Linked DNA regions of Homo sapiens. The protein of the gene in region 2 purifies or fractionates together with the protein of the main gene of each other region. This does not show direct contact. Each region holds a gene or a part of one and is shown on either strand. Other genes may lie near its edges.

Region 1 (7,043 bases), on a different chromosome or scaffold from region 2:
TCAAAGTGGTACTCCGTCTAAAAAAAAAAAATAATAACAATAATAATAATAATGGGCAAAGGCTCCAAACAGGCTTTTCTCTAAAGAAGATATACAAATGGCTAATATATGAGAAGATGCTCAACATCATTAGTCACCAGGGAAATGCAAATCAAAACCACAATGAGATATCACTTCACACCACCAGGATGGACATAATAAAACAAACAAAAAACAGATAATAGCAAGTGCTGGTGAGGATGAGGAGAAACTGGAACCCTCATACACTGCTGAGGGGAATGTAAAATGGTGCAGCCATTTTTGGAAACCAGCCTGGCAGTTCCTCAAAAGGTTAAATGTAGAGTTACCCTATGACCCAGCAATTCCACTACTAGCTATATGCCTGGAAGAAAGGAAAACACATGTCCACATAAAAATGTGTACATGAATGTTACAGTTGCATTATTCATGAAAGCCAAAACGTTTCGATGGATATTCAAAACAGCCCAAATATCCATCAATGGATGAATGAATAAGTACAATGTGGTGCATGTATAAAATGGAATATTATTTGGCAGTAAAAAAAATCTATGCTACAACATGAATGAACCTTGAAGAAATTATGCTCGGTAAAAGAAGCCAGACCCAAAAGACCACATATTATATGATTCCATTTACATGAAATTACTTAGAGTCTAGAGAATCTACAGAGTAGGAAAATCTATGGAGACAGAACGTAGATTTGTGGTTATCTCGGGATTGGGGTGGGGAAGGGGAGAATGAGAATTGACTACTAGTGGGTATGTGCTTTATGGGGTGATGAAAATGTCCTAAAAGGAATTTTCATGAGGGTTGCACAACTTTGTGATCACACTAAAGCCACTGAACTGTATATTTTTTTTTTTGTTTTGTTTTGTTTTTTTGAGACGGAGTCTCGCTCTGTCGCCCAGGCTGGAGTGCAGTGGCGTGATCTCACTGCAAGCTCCGCCTCCCGGGTTCACGCCATTCTCCTGCCTCAGCCTCCGGAGTAGCTGGGACTACAGGCGCCTGCCACCACGCCTGGCTAATTTTTTGTATTTTTAGTAGAGACGGGGTTTCACCGTGTTAGCCAGGATGGTCTCGATCTCCTGACCTCGTGATCCGCCCTCCTTGGCCTCCCAAAGTGCTGGGATAACAGGCGTGAGCCACCGCGCCCGGCCGAAATGTACACTTTAAATGGGTAAATTGCACGGTATGTGAATTATCTCAATAAAGTTGTTAAATATTCAGAAAAAGGTAAATTGAGTCTATGAACATATGAACAGCAGTTCCCCAATGTCACTATCCCTAAGAATCACCCGGAGTTTTTTTTTTGTTTTTGTTTTTTAGACGGAGTATCGCTCTTGTCGGCCAGGCTGGAGTGCAGTGGCGCGACCTTGGGTCACTGCAACCTCTGCCTCCCGGGTTCAAGCCTTTCTCCTGTCTCAGCCTCCCAAGTAGCTGGGATTACAAGCGTGCACCACCACACCCGGCTAATTTTGTATTTTTAGTTGAGACGGGGTTTCTCCATGTTGGTCAGGCTGGTCTCGAACTCCCGACCTCAGGTGATCCACCCTCCTTGGCCTCCCAAAGTGCTGGGATTACAGGCGTGAGCCACCGCGCCGGCCCCGACTAATTTTTGTATTTTTTTTTTTTTTTTTTTAGTAGAGACGGGGTTTCACCATGTTAGTCAGAATGGTCTCTATCTCCTGACCTTGTGATCTGCCTGCCTCGGCCTCCCAAAGTGCTAGGATTACAGGCGTGAACCACCGCGCCCGGCCTGTGTTGCTTTAAGCCACCTTATTTGTTAGGACAGCAACAGGAAACTAATACAAGGTTCAATCCCTCACTGACGATGTTCTGGACGACAGGACCCCTGCCTGGTGCCTCATGGTGGACCCACAGAATCATCTTCATACGCACGGGGGAGAAACATCACTAATGTCCACCAGCACCGGCATCCTCAGCCGCGAGGACAAATCCCTTACCCTCCCAGCAGGTTTCATCTGCGTAACGGAAATAGTGGTGAATTTATCAGGGGCTGTTAATAGATGACAGGCAAGGGTGAAGTCATCGCAAAAGTTCCCAGACGATATGGACAGCTGCTCCCCAATAATTACTGCTCCACGCAGTCCACAGCGGGGCTGTTATTGACCCCGACAGGATGACGGGACACTAAGGTGTGCAGTACACGTCCTCACAGGGAGATTTAAAAAACCGGCAGTGACCCCTGCCCCAAGAAGGCCAAGAACTGCTACTCTAAGGTGTGCAGCGCGGAGCTTCCCCACCATGGCAATTTCAGCCATGGCAGCTCCTTCCCCTAATCACCAGGGCTCAGAATCTTTATTTCACTCCTTTACCCAATGCAATTGGCATCAAACGCGGGCTGGGCTGCGCCCAAATGGTCCCAGCTCCCCGGCTCTCTCCTCTCTCAAGAATACCCACACCCTGAGGCCCCGAGTGTCTCCCCCGCCCCAGTATCTCACGCCTCCAACTCGCTGCCGTCCCTGCAGGGACCTCCCGAGCTGCAACCGTGGGACGAGGCCGGCGGGGGTTGGGGGGTGCCGGGAAGGCAGCGCTGGGCGCGGCGGACACGGCCAGGGACCGGCGGGCGAGTGCGGACCTCCTTCGTGTGGGGGTGTTGAGGCTTTGGACAAGGGACTGGAGGGGGTGGGGAAGGAGGGGCGAGAGGCAAAGAGGGAATCGCGGGAGACCCCACAGGAGGCGGCCTGAGCACCAGGACGCGGACCCCTCCTCAGCACCCGCAGCCCTCGGGACCCCCGAGAGAGCCGGGCCGGGGACTCGTCCATGCCGAGGACGCAGGACCCTCCCCGCCCGCCAGGGCCCGTCCTCACCGACGACAGCGGTGCCCTCCCTCTCCGGCGACAGCGCCGCGGCGGGTCCCTCAGCCTCCGCGCCAAGGGCCCCAGCCTCAGCTCGCGCTGTTACCTCAAGCCGGGGTCACAGCGCGAGCATGCGCAGCAAGGCCGCGGGTGCCCTGTCTTCTGGCTGGGGCCGCTCCTCCGCGTCTTGCCCGTGCGGCGTAGAGCTGGCGTCCGGCCAATCGGAGGGCGGAGGCGGGGCCAAAATTCAGTAAGGGGGCGGGGACACCCGGGATTGAGTGTCGCCGTCAGGGGCGGAGCCTCGGGGGACCTGCGGCCTGGATCCGGGTTGCGGGCGAGGTTATCCCAGCACCAGTGGGTTGGGCTTCACTGCGACCCCCGGGCTTCCTCACGGATTTGACTCCGGCTCTCTGCGGGGAAAACTGGAGCATTTGTTTAAAGGTTTTGCTCTCCCCCGTCGCGATACCGAGCGTGCGGAGGGAAGGTGTTTAGGCTCATGGAAGCCACTGCCTTGCTTTAAGCTCTGCATCCTTGACGACGCAGCAGCCTCATCCGCGCCATTGGTCCAGCCCTCGTCTATTAGTTTAGCCCCTGCCCATTGGTCCAGCCCTCGCCCAATAGTCCCGCCCTCTCTCTGTAGTTCAGCCCCTGTCCATTCATCCTTTCTCGTTATTGGTCCAGCCCTGGCCCATTGGGCCCACCCGTGCCCACGGGCCCCGCCCTCTCCGTGCCCAACCACGTTCACCCGGCCCAAGGGGTGCCCGGGACACTCGCCATCCTCCAGCCACCCACTGCAGTGGGACTGGGCTGGGTCCGGGCACAGGGAGCTGTGGGGCCCTGGGCGCTGCTTTCCTGGGACACTTGGCTGCAGCGTCCAGAGCGGCCCCCGCACAGCCCCCTAGGCTCACCGCGGCTCTCCCAGCCCCGCGGGGTCGCCCCCACTACCCCGGCCACCTTGGTCCCCCTAAGCCTGGCTCCGCGCCCCGCCCCCCTCGCTCTAAAGCGGCCGCTGAATGTGCCACCGCCCCAGGGCTCCAGGGTCCAGGTCGAGATCCTCTGGGGCCTCCCGCACCTTCCGCCTTCTCACGTCCGAATGCCAGCGTCGCTGCACGCCCTTCCTCTGCCCTGCCCCTCCCGGCCCTGGCTCTGCAGGTCTCTGAATCCCACCGTGGACTCCGCTACCAAGGCTCCCGCTGCCCCCATCCCACTATCCTATCTCCCCGGGCATTGTCTGGTGTCATTCAAGGCCTTTGTGCTTTTTTTTTTTTTTTAGAAACGAGAATTGCGCTCTGTCGCTCAGGCTGGAGTGCAGTGGCGTGATCTCGGCTCGCTGCAACCTCTGCCTCCCGGGTTCAAGCAATTCTCATGCCTCAGCCTACTGAGTAGCCGGGATTACGGGCGCCCGCCACCACGCCCGGCTAATTTTTGTACTTTTAGTAGAGACGGGTTTCACCATGTTGGCCAGGCTGGTATTGAACTTCTGACCTCAGGTGATCCACCCGCCTCGGCTTCCTAAAGTGCTGGGATTACAAGAGTGAGCCACCGTGCCCAGCTACCTTTGTGCATTTATTTGCTGTTATCTATTAATCATTCACAGACTACTGGTTGTTTTTAACTTGATGATGTTATAAATATCTTTGTATATGAATCTCTGATGTCAAAGATTTTTTTTTTTTTTTTTTGAGATGGAGTCTCGCTCTGTCGCCCAGGCTGGAGTGCAGTGGCGTGATCTCTGCTTATTGCAACCTCCGCCTCCCGGGTTCAAGCGATTTTCCCGCCTCAGCCTCCCAAGTAGCTGAGATTACAGGCACCGGTAATCATGCTTAATTTTTATATTTTTGTAGAGATGGGATTTCACCATGTTGGCCAGGCTGGTATCAAACCGGAGTTACCTCCGGTGATCTGCCCACCTCGGCCTCCAAAAGTGCTGGGATTAGACATGTGAGCCACCTTGCCTGTCGAGATATTAAAGATTTTTTTTTTTTGAGACAGAGTCTCACTCTGTTGGCAAGACCGGAGTGCAGTAGCACGATCTCAGCTCACTGCAACCTCCGCCTCCTGGGTTCAAGTGGTTCTCCTGCCTCAGCCTCCCAAGTAGCTGAGATTACAGGCGCCTGCCACCGCACCCAGCTAATTTTTTTGTATTTTTAGTAGAGACGGAGTTTCACCATCTTGGCCAGGCTGGTCTTGAACTCCTGACCTCGTGATCCACCCGCCTCAGCCTCCCAAAGTGCTGGGATTACAGGTGTGAGCCACCGCACCCAGCCAAAGATTTCTTGAAAGTCTTAAAAGAGGTCAAAGGAGGCAAATATTTTTAAAAGCTTTTTAAACATGTAGCCAAATTGTCCCCAAGGAAGTGCACAAGCTTGGGGTTAGATGCTTGGGTTCAAGTCCCTGCTGTGTCAATTGCCAGCTGTGTGAATGAGCAATTACATCCCCTCTCTGTGCCTCAGTGTCTTCACCTGATAAATGGGGGTGATAACGCACCCACCTCCTACAGCCATTGTGAGAATTCACAGAGTATTGTCATGTGGACTGATAAGAGTCTTGGTTGTTTTCTGTTTCTTTTTGTTTTTGTTTGAAACAGAGTTTCACTCTTGTTGCCCAGGCTGGGGTGCAGTGGTGTGATCTCGGCTGACTGCAACCTCCACCTCCTGGGTTCAAGTGATTCTCCTGCCTCAGCCTCCCAAGTAGCTGGGATTACAGGTGCCCGCCACTAAGCCCGGCTAATTTTTTTTGTGTTTTTAGCAGAGACGGGGTTTCACTATGTTGTCCAGGCTGGTCTTGAACACCTGACCTTGTGATCCACCCATCTCGGCCTCCCAAAGTGTTGGGATTACAGGCATGAGCCACCGTGCCTGGTGAGTCTTGGTTTTAAAATTTATATTCCTTAGTCCAGCAATTCTCAAACTTTCTGGTCTCAGAACCACTTATGACACAGGATTTTTCAGTGCCCCTTAGTCAGCCAGAGACCTCCATGGCCAGCAGCACCCCTGTTCAGGCCTCCCTTGGCCTGGGCTCGGTGCAGGAGACACCCCACCCATTCCGCCATTTGTGTCATGTTACAGCTCTTTCAATCCCGCTGCCCCCCTTGGGTCCTCAGCTTCAGGGCTGGCCCAGCCCACTGCTATTTCCTCTTGCCTGGGCAGGTTCTGGGGGTGGGTGGAGGGCTACAGTGTTACAGCCTTTTTCCTACCAGTGGTAGACCCTCCAGAGTTCTTGTCCCACATCCAAGAAGAATGAGGTTATGCTGACAGCCAGTGGGTGAGCAGGGTGAAGAGTTTTATTGAGCTAACAAACAGCTCTCAGCGAAGAGGGGACCCTCTCAAAGTCGGGTAGTTCCCCCCGCCATGGTGTGTAGACCCCAAGTGTGGCTGAGTCTGAGGTTTTTATTGGCTCAGAATGGGGGAGTGCATGCTGATTGGTTTCTGAGTATGCAAAAAAGGCTTAAAAGGCACTCAAAATTGGGCATGACAGTGTAAACAACCAGTTAGGGAAGGGTAGGTGTATGTAAAATAGGTGAAATGTGGGGATCAGTCAGAGGAAAGTGGGCCACACGGGAAGAGAGGTTCTCAGTATGTTCCATGAATTTATCAGAGACTTGTAGCTTGGTTTTCAGGCTTTAAAATGTCTTTGGTTTGAAGGCCAGTTTCACCAGGGATGGGATCTGTCTCTGTCTGCCTGGGGATTTGTCTGCCTCCTGCCGCCATCATTTTCACTGTTAGTTATTGAGACGCTCAGAGAGATTTTAGTTATGTGGGTTACATCTATCAATATTTACTATATAGAAATTTAGGCTGGGTGCAGTGGCTCATGCCTGTAATCCCACCACTTTGAGAGGCCAAGGCAGGTGGATCACCTGAGGTCAGGAGTTTGAGACCAGCCTGGCCAACATGGTGAAACCCAGTCTCTACTAAAAATACAAAAATTAGCAGGGTGTGGTCGTCGTGGGCGACTGTAATCCCAGCTACGTGGGAGGCTTGAACCCGGGAGGCAGAGGTTGCAGTGAGACAAAACAATGCCACTGCACTCCAGCCTGGGCAACAGAGTGAGGAAAAAAAACAAGACGGCTGGGTGCAGTGGCTCACGCCTGTAATCCCAGCAGTTTGTGAGGCTGAAGCAGGCAGATCATGAGGTCAGGAGTTCGAGACTAGCCTGGCCAACATGGTGAAACCCCATCTCTACTAGAAATACAAAAAAATT
Region 2 (7,022 bases):
TCTTAGCTCATTTCAGCATCAACCCAAAAGTCCAAATCCAAAGTCTCATCTGAGACGAGGCAAGCCCTCTCTGCCTATGAGCCTAGAAAATTGAAAGCAAGTTAGTTACTTCCTAGATACAGTGGGGCTACAGGCATTGGGTAAATATACCTGTTCCAAATGGGAGAAATTGGCCAAAACAAAGGGGCTACAGCAGGCCCCATGCAAGTCCAAAATCCAATAGAGCAGTTGTTACACCTTAAAGTTCCAAAATGATCTCCTTTGACTCCATGTCTGAATGATAGCTTTTGGACCTATAGGATTCATGTGGCTTGTAGAAAATTTAAAACTTCATTGTGCCTCGCATTATATCTTGATTGGACACAACTGATCTAAAGGATGACTAGAGCTTAACCTAAAGCAGGGTGAGACTGAAGTGGCAATGGAGAGAAGAGATGAAGGGTGAGTGTTCTGCATAGGGTACAGTGTGTGCAAAACTACTGAGGCAAGAAAGAACCTGACATGCTCAAGGAAATAAAACGAAAGCCTTGCAGGTCACATGAAGGATTCTGAACATTTTCTAAGACCAGTAGGAAGAATTGAGGTTTTAAAATAAGATACTCAATTTTCAAGGAGTTTAATTGTTAGTTTGCAGTTAATAAATGAGGGCAAGAGAACTTCAACTGAATATAGCAAGACTTTCAACATTGAAGCTCCCCAACTCCCTAGGATGGTGGGGGAGGGGCGATTTGGTCAGTGGAGGAAGCAGGACGCTGCCCATCACCTGAACCTAACCCTAGGGTATGAGGCATGAGCACCCCCCACTAGAGAGAGAAGCAGTGTCACCTGGGAAGAGGTCGTTTTCAGTTCAGATCTTTTTCAGTGCAATTGACACTCAAAGCTGAGTGGGAGTTTGAGGACAGAGCTAGGAATTCTGCAGGGCACCAGCAAATGGTTTGGTGAGGGAGGGCTGTAAAGGTGGGTCAGGGAGAAGGAAGCCCAGAGCATTATGGGGATTAGAGGGTCTGTCCTTTGAAAGGCTGTGTTGGGCAATAACAGGAAAGCTGGTTAAGTGGTCCAGACGCTTGGGTTCTGACCGTCTCCTGGGGTATAGTGGCTGTACCATTTATCTGTGGCCTAGGGGAGGTTTCCCTTTAAGTCAGAGGTCATAAGCTAGCAGCCACGATCTAGCCTGCAGAAGAAATGTTTTGTTTCACTCACATTTTACAAATATACATTAGTTGCTAATATTTAAATCAGATATCAGATAAAAATACACGTTTTCATTTTTTTTTTAATTGGAAGATCTAGAAACCTCAGTTGCTCAGTATCACAGGGCAATGGGCTGGAGCTAAGTAGTAGGTACTCCTTTGATTTTTTACATGAATTTTTAGGAGGTTTTGAAATGATTGTTTTAGCTTTTTTAAAAAAGACATTTATTTACTCAAAGTTTCTCTGTGGTCTGACTCTAAGTCTTGCATTCATCCTAGTCTTCGATGTCAGCAATCCCATCTTCTTTTTGTTTTCCAGAAAAGTTCTAAGAACAGTGCTGTTGGCTCAGTGAGATGAGGTTATCGGAAAACTTTCTGTTTACACAAGAGTTGCCTCCTTCAAAGAAGCATGCATGGTCCTTGCAGGTCACTGTGCCCATCACTCTGCATAGTCCAGCTGCACTCTGCTTCACACAGCTGCCTGCCCATTGCAGGCATTTGAGTTTGCAATCCATGCCTTAAACTTTAAATCACACTGGCTACAGCGTTGTGTGTTTCTTGGTAAACACTGGGTAAATCAGCTCCTGTGGATGTTGACTGAAGTTTCTATGTTTGCAAGCTAATCCTCAGCAGTTTCTTTGTAAGTATCCAGCAGTTAAGTGGGAAAAGTCCGTTGATAGTACTAGGGAGGAGAGAGGAAAGTGACCTTTTGTTTTCTTGAGATAGACATACTAGTTTAGTACTTTATCATGTATTCACCTGCGTAAATGTATTCCTGTGCTTCAGAGTGAGGGAAGGATGCATATTTGCATAGTTTTTGTGACTGCAGTACTGTTCCTCTGTTCTGGTGTGTGTGTGTGTGTATTTTTTTTTTAGTAAAAAGAAAACAGAACTTTGTTTTAATGCAGTAAGCAAATATAGGAGAATAAGATACCACAAAGCTTGGTGGTGGGTGCCTGAGTGTCCATGTTGCTATTACTACATTGTTTTGTCCCCTTGATATAGTTTATAATCAAAAGATGGTGGAAAGGTGCTTCTGTCTACAAAATTTGTCTAACCATGCCCTTCTTTAACTGAAGAGAGAATGGCTTCATTAGCTTATGGAGGTTTCTCACTTGACAAGATAAACTGAGGGTGAAGGTAGAGGAACAGTTGATAGCTTCTTTTTTCTCCATCCCCCTCCTCCACTACCAATAACAAAACAAAATGATCAATGGTTACAAAGGGTAGATACAGTTTTTGATGGAGCTGAGGCTTCTACTACTTGGTGGATTGGGGCTTTGTAAAGAAACACTGCAAAAATATCTTCCATTTGCAAATTAACACACTTACACACACCCCTCCGTGTGTGTGTGTGTGTGTGTGTGTGTGTGTGTGTGTGTGTTCATCACCTGGTTTCTCACAGGTGAGGGGCTCTGAAGCTTGAACTTTGTTAGATTCATGACTATTCTGCCCCTGGGCACAGGCAGTCATCTGGCAAAACACTGCCTAGATACCTTTTGTTCCCTTCTCTGTTCTGCCACCCTGATGCCTCTTCTAGGCTAAGGACAGAGACATTGGGCTTCCTCCTTGGGAATTCTCAGCTCTGTGGGATGCTTTAATCTGGGTCCTGAGCCCAGGCTCTTCTGGTTCCCTGGCACTTCCCTGCTGCACATGCACAGCAACCTGGTACTTAACAAGAAAGGAAAATCATCATCCTAACTGCTGTAGCCTTTCAACTTCAGTCATGCACCACCTAATGATGTTTCAGTCAAGCATGGATCGTGTAAATGATGGTGGCCCTGTAAGATGGTAATGGAGCATATATAGACATCTGATATGTGGCACTTGACATTGGCATTGCAGATCGAGTAGGGGAAATGACTGATATTCAGTAATTGTGCTGGGATACTTGGCTTTCCATATGAAAAAACATAAGTAACAATATGTATACCATCTAGGTTTGTGTAAGTACATTCTATGTTGTTTGCACGACAAAATCACCTAATGATGCATTTGCCAGGACATATTCCCTTCATTAAGCAACACATGACGATACTTGCAAATCACCTCAATTTGATTTCTTTCCTTAAGTCCTCTGTTTGCCTTCCATTGAAATATAAAGCCTTATTTTAAAGACTGTTTTCCCTTCAGAATCTCTAGGAATTACTAAAGAAAGGTAGAAACTAGATCTAGATTCCAATCAATTTTGCCATTGATTGTTATTTTACTGTGGGTGACTCACAGTTTAAGTGGGAGAGAAAATCTCCAGTTAATGGAAGTTGCCAAGAGTGGCAGAAGACCAGGCTGTAGTGCTCGTATAATCTTTACAACCCAGTGTGCAAAACACTGGAGGAGAGATGGAGAGGCCGGGCGTGTAAACCAAGCATGTGTCAGTGCAGATGTGTCCACCACAAGGAGAGAGAGAGGCGGGCTGAGCAGCCATGTCAGCAGATTCTCCGAGGATGGAGTGGGCCCAGCAGATCTTCAGGCCAGCAGCTTAAATGTAAGGAGTTCAGCATAGCTTGAGAGTTGCTGGTCTCCCTTTACTAGATTCTCCCCCTGCTAAGACGTAGCTGGTGTGTGTAGGATATCTGGAGGGCTGGGGAGGAGGAGGTGGGGCCTCTTTATCAGTGTGGTTCCTCTCACTCCTGCCTACCAGATCTGTTTGTACAGGCAGCATCCCTCAGCTGCTTGCATTTGATAGCTTATTTTGCATCTGGATTTATTCCTGCTGAAAACTCTATCTTGAGGTAGGTGCAAGATTATTTAGGTACGTACCATATTTGGTGTTAATGTCTCTTTAAAGCACTTTTAATTTGTCTGAATGTTGAACTGATGTGTTTTGCATACCTTAGATTTTCTTGTGTGTTGTAGCCTGTGGCATTGAAGAGCTAGTTGCCACCAGCCAGTGATACATATCAGATATATGCAGTGGTGCATTGAAATAACATGTTTAATAACTTCTATAATAAGAATGTGAGACTGGTAAATACTTCTTTTTCCACCACAGGAAAACAAAGTGAAAAGGATGCCTTCAGTGTAGAGTCAGCTGCTGGGAGCTGGGAGTTCCCAGCCACTAGTCATTCTTTCAGACGTCTGTAACTCATTCTATTAAATCCTTTCTACTGTAAGCATAAATTGCCTTTGTATCTGGCAGAAACACAGCATGCCATTAGAATGAAGTGTTTTGTTATTTTATGTCATGCAATTAACATGCTATCCAAACATCAGAAAATTTAAGTCAACTAGATTCCCTGTAATGAATTATTAATATCTATAGAATATGCCTGTATGTGTCACAGTGTATGAGTTATCACATTTCTGACTGTTCAAAGGGATTTCAGTTTCTTTTAGAAATTGGGTGTTGTAAAGCGATGTTTCTATTCCTAGATTGTCAGTTGAATATAACTTAGACTTGTTGTTCTTGTCTTTCTAGATGTATTGCTGTCCTTGAATATTAGCCCATTTGAAAACGCCTGGGAAGTTCAGCCATCAGTATGTCCAAGTACAAACTTATTATGTTAAGACATGGAGAGGGTGCTTGGAATAAGGAGAACCGTTTTTGTAGCTGGGTGGATCAGAAACTCAACAGCGAAGGAATGGAGGAAGCTCGGAACTGTGGGAAGCAACTCAAAGCGTTAAACTTTGAGTTTGATCTTGTATTCACATCTGTCCTTAATCGGTCCATTCACACAGCCTGGCTGATCCTGGAAGAGCTAGGCCAGGAATGGGTGCCTGTGGAAAGCTCCTGGCGTCTAAATGAGCGTCACTATGGGGCCTTGATCGGTCTCAACAGGGAGCAGATGGCTTTGAATCATGGTGAAGAACAAGTGAGGCTCTGGAGAAGAAGCTACAATGTAACCCCGCCTCCCATTGAGGAGTCTCATCCTTACTACCAAGAAATCTACAACGACCGGAGGTATAAAGTATGCGATGTGCCCTTGGATCAACTGCCACGGTCGGAAAGCTTAAAGGATGTTCTGGAGAGACTCCTTCCCTATTGGAATGAAAGGATTGCTCCCGAAGTATTACGTGGCAAAACCATTCTGATATCTGCTCATGGAAATAGCAGTAGGGCACTCCTAAAACACCTGGAAGGTACCAGCTTTATATACCACTTATTAGAGGTTGCCAAGTGTGATATCTAGGCCTTAATCTAGAAATTAAGCTAATGAGGCCCTATTTACACAATAGACTCCTCTATCCCCCTTTGTCACTTCAGATTTAAGAATTGTCTTGTTCTATAAATCAGATCTCTTGTGTGTTTTCTGTTCCTGTTACCCGAAGCAGCAGTTTTCAGACTTTAGCAAGCATCAGAGTCACCTGGAGAGGTTGGTGTATCACAGATTGTGGGTCCCACCCTCAGAGTTTCGGAATCAGTAGGTCTGGGGCGCACCCTGAGAATCTGCATTTCTTAGAAGTTTTAGGTGATGCTGATACTGCTGATTGGGGTTCCACACTTTGAGAAGCACTAGTCTAAAGGACTGTATGGCTTGTTGTAGTGAAATGAAAGGAAGCTAGGAAAGGAAGGAATTGTTGAAATGGCCTTGAAAGTAAATTAGAGTTTTTCAAGTCAAGTAAATTATCTAGACTTCAGTTTTGCTCACGTTCTTCCAACTTTAAACAATGATTGCTGTTCCTAGACGTAGGTTTCCTGAGCAGTTCTTTTGTTTCAAACTTCTTTTCAGAACAGGCTTAGTCATTGACTGGAAGAAAGTTAGGGGGAAGGAAACTAAAAGGATAGTTGGTTTATTTATCTTGACTCTAAAAATTTGGAAATCAGCAGCAGCCATAATTTTAACTACTTTATGTCATGTTCTACATGTATACTAAAACATACTGTATTGTTACCTTTTTAAGTAACATGAACCAAATGAACTCTTGAGGATTCAGGTTCACCGGTTTTGAGCATCAGTGATTGCACTGTGACACCTTCTGGATTTCTCACTGTTCTGTGGATTTCTCGTTTCCCTCTCTGCCTCCACTCATCCCAGATGGTTGTGCTTTTTGCGTGATATGCCCTGTCTGGTGTTTTCCTGCCTTTCATCACTGTCAGCAGTTAGCTTACTGGTAATAAATAGAAGAAATTTCTCCACCATTCGTTTTCATTCTGCTTTAATTTTCTATAAGAGGCTGTGACAAATAAAAAGGCTGACCTTGTATGTGAAATAAGTAGAAATAGATTATTAGTTAAAAATGAAGTAATCTTTAGCATGTGATTATTTTCCCCTAATTTTTATAACATGACCAAGAACTAAATCATTACTTGTATAGCTGACATCCATTAGTCATGCAGAGACCTAAAATCTACAGACTATTAGATACTAAAATTTTATTGGCTAGACATGGCACTTGATATGTGTGTGTGTGTGTGTTTGTGTGTGTGCACGTGCGCATGTGCGTGGGCACATGTGTATCTTATTTACTCAACTATATAAAAGGTTCTATTCTTGTTCAGAATAATTAGATCTTTAACTTCATTATTAGTGATATATAACTTCATCATTAATGGACCATAGTATTTTATTGTTTGAAGAAGAGTTGAGGCTTCTACTAGACAACAACAAACTGAAATTCAGAATTTCAGAGTTTCTGCCAGAGGTGTATTCTATTCAACCGTGCCAACTCCTTTTTCAGAGCTGGGTCTCAGATTTATTGTGGCCAGGCTCCCTTCTCTCAAGAAAACACCACTATCTCCTTTAGGATCATCTTTCTCCACCTTCTTAGCTTGGAAGTCCCCCTTTTAAAAAAGTTTCCTACTGTTTAATACCATTGACTCTTCACCTATCTTCAAATTTATTATAGATCTCTTTAAAACGATTCTACAGCCCAACCACAGCTCATTGTACA
Region 3 (7,085 bases), on a different chromosome or scaffold from region 2:
GGGACAGCCCTGCAGCCACCGGTGACTCGGGTTCGTCTGCGGATCTTTCCCGGCCTCCACTCCATTCAGGGACAGCCCTGCAATGGGGCTCCCTCCCAAAAAAACGCATGGCCTTCCTGTCCCCCAAAACCAGCTTAACGGCAGCCATTCCCTCCCTCCTCCGGGGGCTGAAAAACCAGACCACCTTCCACTAAAAGAGGCCGTTTACACAGACCCCTTGGTGGTCCTGGGGGCTGGGGAGGCCCGGAAGAGGAGCCTGGAAAGCCACAAGTATCCAAAACCCTTTGGAAACCGAATCCAAGGTGCCTGGGCCTGGGACTGCCCTCCCAGTCCCCAAATCGTTACTGTAAAGGGGGCTTTGGAATGGGACGTCAGCAGGCTCAAGGGGTGGGGGAGGGTGCCAGGAGATCCGCCCTGCCCTCCCCCACCACACAGGGTAGACGGTGGCGCGCCATCAGCACAACTGCATCCACCCCTGGGGATGCCCGACTGGGCACCCCCAGGCCTGTTTCTTACTGCAATCCCGGGATAACAATACTGCCTTCCCAGGACTCCAAACCCATCCCTCCCCTCCCTGCTGGCTTAGGGACCGCTGCCCCAATACCCGGGGGCCTATGGAAGCGCCTCTTGGGTGCCACTCAGGGAGGTGGCCATCCCGTCCACTTAACCCAGAAACTCAGAAAACCCAAATGGAGCTCTCAGGCCACGCCATCTGGCAAGAAAAGAATGACCTGGGTAGACAGGTGGGAGTCGCTTTCCCAACAGGCTCCCACTTCAGCCCCGTCTGTTCAGATCGCCCAACTTACCCCCAAAAAGCCAGGGCACTCCTGGACCCCTGCCCACCGCCCGGAGAGGCACCTCCCTTTCTGTTCCCAACGCTGCCTCGCCATCTTCACAGACCCCCAATGTCCCTCCCCGCGGAGATACACGGACCCCATTGCCCTCAAAAAGAGGTAACACCCTGGGACCCCTCCGCCGAGGATGTGTGGCTCCTCGCAGAAAACGCAGACCCCACCCAAGTCCTGTCTTGACGCCCTCGGTTCCCGTCTGTGTCTCAAGGTGGGCAGAGCCTCCAGGCCCCTGGGACCAGGACAGGGACTGAGCGAGGGGTGAAAAGAGTGCAGAACAGAGAGGGGGCGGCCGGCAGGCTACACACCACCGCCCCCACCCGCCCTCCTGCTCTCCACCCTCAGGCGTCCCAGCGCGGCTCCCCATACCCCAAAGATGGACCCTCAATTCTTCCGCAAGGCATTCGCGGCCCCTGCTCATCTCAGCCCCACCACTCTGGACGGCCCACTTCCCTTCGGCTGCTCCACGTGTCCCTACAATCCGAGCCCACGGACCAAGCCTCCTTGGAGTGTCCAGCTGCCCAAAGCGGCCACCGCTATGGCTATGAAATAGAGGCAGCATCGCACTCTTGATAGAAATGAGAAAATTGAGACCCAGATCGGGTAGAGGTCTTCTGTTTGGTGGCAAGGCCAGAATGCCAAGCCCAAGGGCAGCCGCACAGCTTTCCCCCAGCCCCCCACCCTCCCCGGAAGGGACAAGCACCTCTAATGCCCAAACCAGGGCCGGCCATCAAGGCCCACCGTCCCCTGTTGCCCAGTCCAAACTCCCAGTCCAGAAAGTGGAACCCTAGGAGGGGACGGAGTGAAAAAATACAGCCAGGCCCACCAGGCTCCCGGTTCCCCTCGCCGCCCCGGGGACTGCGCTAGGAGGGGCGTTGGTGTAGCCGAAGCGCTCCAACTACGCGCACCTTCCCGAATCGCCCGCCAGGTAGGGGTGAACAAACACGCCAGGGAAATACAGCAGTGTGGACCCGAGCCCCTCGAGGGTCCTCCAATACTATGAAGTTCCCCCGCCCAGACTCAGGCCCCAACCCGCGCTCCTAGCCTCGCCCTCCCCCTCGTTAAAATACAGAGAACGCAGAGAAAACGTGCCGGGCTCCCCCCATCCTGGCCCCACGCCAGGTGCTCTGCCGACCTCTGGGGAGAATCCGCGCGGCCACCCCGGCGGCGGCGACGCGGTTCCTCCTCCATTTTCACAGATAAGGAAACTGAGGCTGGGGGAGGGGGAGAACCCAGAACCCCAGAGCCGGATGCTCCAACCACGGTGCCCACCGCCCAGACCAGAACGCAAAAGAAAAAAAAAAAAACGGAACAAGGCCCAGAAAGGGAGAGAGGTGGTCTGCCCAGGAGTCTCAATCCCGCCCGCAGACCTCGCTGGGCCCCCGGAGCCCCCGCCACTGCCGCCGGGGCGGCCATCCGCTCGCCGCCCGACCGCGTGGCCGCCACGCCCCCCGCGCGCGCCCCACCCACCGAGGCCCCGCCCTGCCGGCCGGCGCGGCGGCGGCCCGGGCGCGCCCCCCTCCCCGCCCCCCACGCGCCACGCAGTTTCGGGGTCCTGGCGGGGGAGGGGTCTCAGGCGGCCGCCCCCGCAAGGGCCGGGATCGCGGCTGCACTCACCTGTGTGCGTCCGCAGGTGCGACTTTAGGTGCGAGGACTTGTAGTAGGCTTTGGCGCAGTCCGGGAAGGGACAGCGGTGGCTCTTGGCGGCGGCGGAGGGCGCGGCGCCGGGGGCGCGGCCCGAGGACGGGGACGAGGCGGCTGAGGAGGAGGAGGCGGGCGAGGCGCCCCCCGGGGCGGCTCCGGGTCCGCCGCGCAGGTCGGCCAGGATGCTGGCGGCCAGCAGGTGGGGCGCCGCGGCGGCGCCGGGGCCCGGGCCAGAAGCGGCGGGGGGCGGCGGGGGTGGCCCCGGGGTCCCGGGTGAGGCGGCCTCGCGGCGCGCCGCGCGCACATCCAGGCCGGCGGCGGGGCCCGCGCCCTCGGGGCCGGGCCGCCCGCGGTGCACCACGGCGCCCGAAGAGATGGCCATGAGCACGTCGGCGGCGAAGTAATCCACGCACGCCACGGCCGCCGACATGCCGAGCAAGGGCGCGCGGCGCGGCGGGCGGAGCGGAGGCGGCGGGAGCGGCGTCCGTCCGGCCGGCGGCGGCTGCTCGAGTGCGGGAGGCGGAGGAGGAGGAGGAGGAGGCCCGGCGCGCGCCGCCGCCGACGCCCGCGCTCGGCCTGCCCCGCCCCGCCTGACGCGTCCTGACGCACCGGAGCCCGCGGGGGCGGCCACAGCCCGCCCCGCCCGGAGGACGCCCCCTCGGGGCGCCGCAGCCACGCCCCCCGCCCGGCGCGCCCTCCACCACTCTCCGAGCCGCGCGCGGCCGCCGGGGGCGGGGCTCGGGCCGGAGGAACCCGCCCCCCGGCGCGCCCACTCCGGCCTCCGCCAGCGCCTAGCGTCTTAGGCCCGGAGCGCGCCTTCTCCGCGCTAGGGTGCAAGGCCGGGAGCCCCGCCCCCTCCCGGCGCGCCCCACTCCAGCGCGCGCCCCCGTACCCTTTCCCGGAGCACCACCCCCTCAAGCCGGGGCGGGAGGCCGAGGACCCCGCCCCCTCTCCGGCACGCCCCTCCTTCCGAGAGCGCGCCCCGCCCCATCCCGGCACGCCCCTCCCTCCCAGAGCGCGCCCCGCCTCCTCGCTGGCGCGCCCACCCCACGCCGGGGCGCGCGGCCGGCGGGAGCCCGCCCCCTCCCCGGATGCTTCCCTCCTGGCCCCGGGCGCGCCCCCGTTCGCGATGGAGGAGGGCTCCGATCCCCACGTGGCCGGGGTTGGAGGGGTGCGGAAGCGGCCGGCCCCGCCCCCAGGCCACGTGCGCGACCCTTCCCCCCTCTTCTCCCGGCCTGGGGCCCTGCTTTGACCCCGCACTCAGGCATCTGCTCGTCCTCTTCTCTGGGGTTCCCCCTCGCCGCTCACAGAGCCCCTCGGAGCCTCCCGGCCGAGACACCCGGTATCCCGCGCCCGCGGCGGGGCCCGGGAGGGTGGGGCAAGGCTGCGTTCGTTCCTCTTTTTGCACCCAGTTCCGGAGCTACTAGAGCGCGCCCCACTGGGGGTGGGGAGGGCCGGTTGGGTCCCAGAGGGTCGGGATAGGGGGACGGGAAGAGGGGGCCGAACGCAAAGGGCTGGGCTGGGCTGGGGGCGCCTGAGCGGGTCAGAGGTTCCCCGCCCTGCTGGGACACCGGGGTCCGGGGCTTCTCTTTCCATTCCCAGGCATCGATTCTTGGGGTTCGGACGGGAAAACTGAGGCCAGGTATTCGGGCCTCCCGGCCGCGAGGACGTCCAGGCCAACTTGTTAAATATTAGGGGGGACACCAGGGACGCGGATGGCCCAGTTCGCAGGCCCAAGGCGGCGGGGGCACAGAAACTGGGCGGCCCCCCTCGGTCGCGACCGCGCTCCCGCCCCTTCCCAGCTCCGGCGGGGCGGCGGGGACTGCGCAGTGGCCGGAGCTGCCTCCAGGGGGCGGAGCTGCTTTGGCCTGCGGCGACCTCCTGCTCTGGGTTGGGCATGGACAGAGGCCCTGACCCGATTCGGGGCTTCTCTAGCCCCATCCCCCGCCCACCTGCAACCCCAGCTGACGCCCTGAGGCTGACCACTGTTCCCTGGGTCGCCCGCACTGCGCCTGGGCTCAACCATGCTTGGTTAAGCCAGCTGAGCCCTCCCTGGGCCCCAGTAAGCCCACTCTACGTGGCTGGACAGAGCGGAGCCGAGAGAGAGGAGGTTCAGCGAAGTGTGGGAGGGTACAGGGTGCCCTGCACACACTTGCCCCTCTCCTAGGCCTGGGCTCCAGAGCCCTCTCTGCACCCCTACCATTCGGTGGGCGCTGGGGGTCGGCGTTCCTGCTCCTGCTGGGCCTCTGTTGTCTTTGAACTTCTAGGACGATGGGCCACTTGGGCAGGTCCCCCAGGTCCCCACCATCCCAGCAGCCCCCAGGGTCCTGGAACCCCGCATTGGCTTGTGGACAGGTGTGTCTTGAGGCCTCAGGGTCCACACCCAACCATGCGTCTTCCACTGATGTTTCCTGGGCTTAGAGCAGAACCAACCAGCCCTGCCCTCAAGGGGCTTACAGTTGTAACTGGGAGGCTAACGATGGGGGGCAGGGGTGAGCAGCCTCCAGGGGTGGGCCACATGGCCCCAGGCAGGACCTTCACTGTGAGACTCCATTGTCTGCCCACTCCAGCCATTATCAGGGTTTCAAGTGAGTGGCCTCATCTGCAGGTCATGCCAGCCACTCCACAGGCAGGAGACCCCAGGTGAGGGCACACAGCCCACACCCCACCCATGAGGCTTCTATTCACACCCCTAAGCCCCAGGAACACTCAGGCAACCCATGACCCCTGCGGTGAACACAGACAAACCTCCAGCAGCGCCCGGCACAGGGCTCTGTCCTCTCTTCCTTACTCTCTATGACCCTGTAAATTCTCCACCGGGTGCGGTGGCTCACGCCTGGAATGCCAGCACTTTGAGAGACCAGGGTAGGAGGATCACTTGAAGCTATCAGTTCAAGACCAGCCGGGGCAACGTAATGAAACCCCCAACTCTCCACATTAAAAAATGAGCTGCAGGCCGGGTGCAGTGGCTCACGCCTGTAATCCCAGCACTTTGGGAGGCCAAGGCTGGCAGATCACCTGAGGTCAGGAGTTCGAGACTAGCCTGGCCAATGTGGTGAAATCCCGTCTCTACTAAAAATACAAGAAAAAATTAGCCGGGCCAGGTGGTGGGCACCTGTAATCCCAGCTACTCAGAAGGCTGAGGCAGGAGAATCGCTTGAATCTGGGAGGTGGAGGTTGCAGTGAGTTGAGATCGAACATTGTACTTCAACCTGGGCGACAAGAGCAAAAACTCCATCTCAAAAAAAAAAATTAGCTGGAGGCCAGTCATGGTGGCTCACGCCTGTAATCCCAGCACTTTGGGAGGCCGAGGCAGGCGGATGACCTGAGGTCGAGAGTTCGAGACCAGCCTGACCAATATGAAGAAACCCCGTCTCTACTAAAAATACAAAAAAAATTAGCCGGGCCTGGTGGCGCATGCCTGTAATCCCAGCTACTCAGGAGGCTGGGGTAGGAGAATCGCTTGAACCCAGGAGGCGGAGGTTGCAGTGAGCCGAGATCGTGCCACTGCACTCCAGCCTGGGTGACAAGAGAGAAACTGTCTCAAAAAAAAAAAAAATTAGCGGGCGCAGTGGCCTCACACCTGTAGTCCCAGCTACTCAGGAGGCTAAGGTGGAAGGGTCGCTTGAGCCCAGGAGGTCAAGGCTGCAGTGAGCTGTGACTGCACCACTGCACTCCAGCCTGGGTGACAGAGTGGGACCCTGTCTCAAAAAAAAAAAAAAAAAAAGGAGTTGTCATTCCCATTCTACAGATGAAAAAATCAAGACTGGGAGAGGACCGAGAACAGCCGGCTCCTGCTCACAGCTAAGAGGCAGCAGACACTTTGGGGCATCCATAACTCAGCCCCTTCTTTCTTCAAACCTGTTCCTCACCTATAAATGGGGGCTCACCTCTACCCTTCCCTGACAGCGCCCAAGAGGATCAGGGGGACAGCTCCTCCCAGCCCCAAAGATGGACCTCCCAAGCCTGAGGGCTATGGAGCAAAGCTCAGCAGGGGACAGACAGCACCCAGGTGTTGCTGGGAGTGGGTCTCTAGCAGGGCAGGAAGAACACAACGGGACTCTCAGAGGGGCCACGGAGCCAGGAACTGGGGCCTTGCCTCATAGAGGGCAAAGAACACAGTCTCCCAGAGGACAGATGAGGGCAGAGGTCACATAACCGGGGGTGCACCCACAACATGGATACCCCAAGGTAGGTGAGGGCCAAAAACAAGGCTGCAGGGCCGGGTGCAGTGACTCACGCCTGTAACCCCAACACTTTAGGGGGCTGAGATGGGAGGACTGCTTGAGCCCAGGAGTTCAAGACCAGCCTGGGCAATATAGTGAGACCCCTGTCTGCATAAAAAACAAATTCAAAACTTACCCAGGCATGGTAGTGCACGCCTGTGGTCCCAGCTCTTCGGGAGGCCGAGGCGGGAGGATTGCTTGCGGCCCCGAGGTCAAGGCTGCAGAGAGCTGTGATACACCCCAGCCTGGGCAACAGAGCGAGATCCTGTCTCTAAAAATAGTGATAGATTGTCTGGGTGTGGTGGCTGATGCCTGTAATCTCAGCACTTTGGGAGGCCAAGGCAGATGTATCACCTGAGGTCAGGAG

The links. Proteins that work in one complex are often made in the same cells at the same time.
Region 1: the proteins of BPGM (region 2) and FLYWCH2 purify together in Homo sapiens (affinity purification with mass spectrometry; 3 studies listed by BioGRID and IntAct, with this or other methods). This does not show direct contact.
Region 3: the proteins of BPGM (region 2) and KLF16 purify together in Homo sapiens (affinity purification with mass spectrometry; 3 studies listed by BioGRID and IntAct, with this or other methods). This does not show direct contact.

Annotation. Positions count from the first base shown.
Region 1 is NC_000016.10:2,879,176-2,886,218, reverse strand, and holds the start of FLYWCH2 (FLYWCH family member 2), read right to left. Parts: upstream 3,005-7,043; 5' UTR 2,853-3,004; intron 1-2,852.
Region 2 is NC_000007.14:134,656,839-134,663,860, forward strand, and holds part of BPGM (bisphosphoglycerate mutase), read left to right. Parts: intron 1-1,255; exon of another isoform or gene 1,256-1,872; intron 1,873-3,826; exon of another isoform or gene 3,827-3,922; intron 3,923-4,216; exon of another isoform or gene 4,217-4,297; intron 4,298-4,608; 5' UTR 4,609-4,669; coding exon 4,670-5,270; intron 5,271-7,022. UniProt on the Homo sapiens protein: Plays a major role in regulating hemoglobin oxygen affinity by controlling the levels of its allosteric effector 2,3-bisphosphoglycerate (2,3-BPG). Also exhibits mutase (EC 5.4.2.11) activity.
Region 3 is NC_000019.10:1,860,576-1,867,660, forward strand, and holds the start of KLF16 (Krueppel-like factor 16), read right to left. Parts: upstream 3,005-7,085; 5' UTR 2,923-3,004; coding exon 2,466-2,922; intron 1-2,465. UniProt on the Homo sapiens protein: Transcription factor that binds GC and GT boxes and displaces Sp1 and Sp3 from these sequences. Modulates dopaminergic transmission in the brain.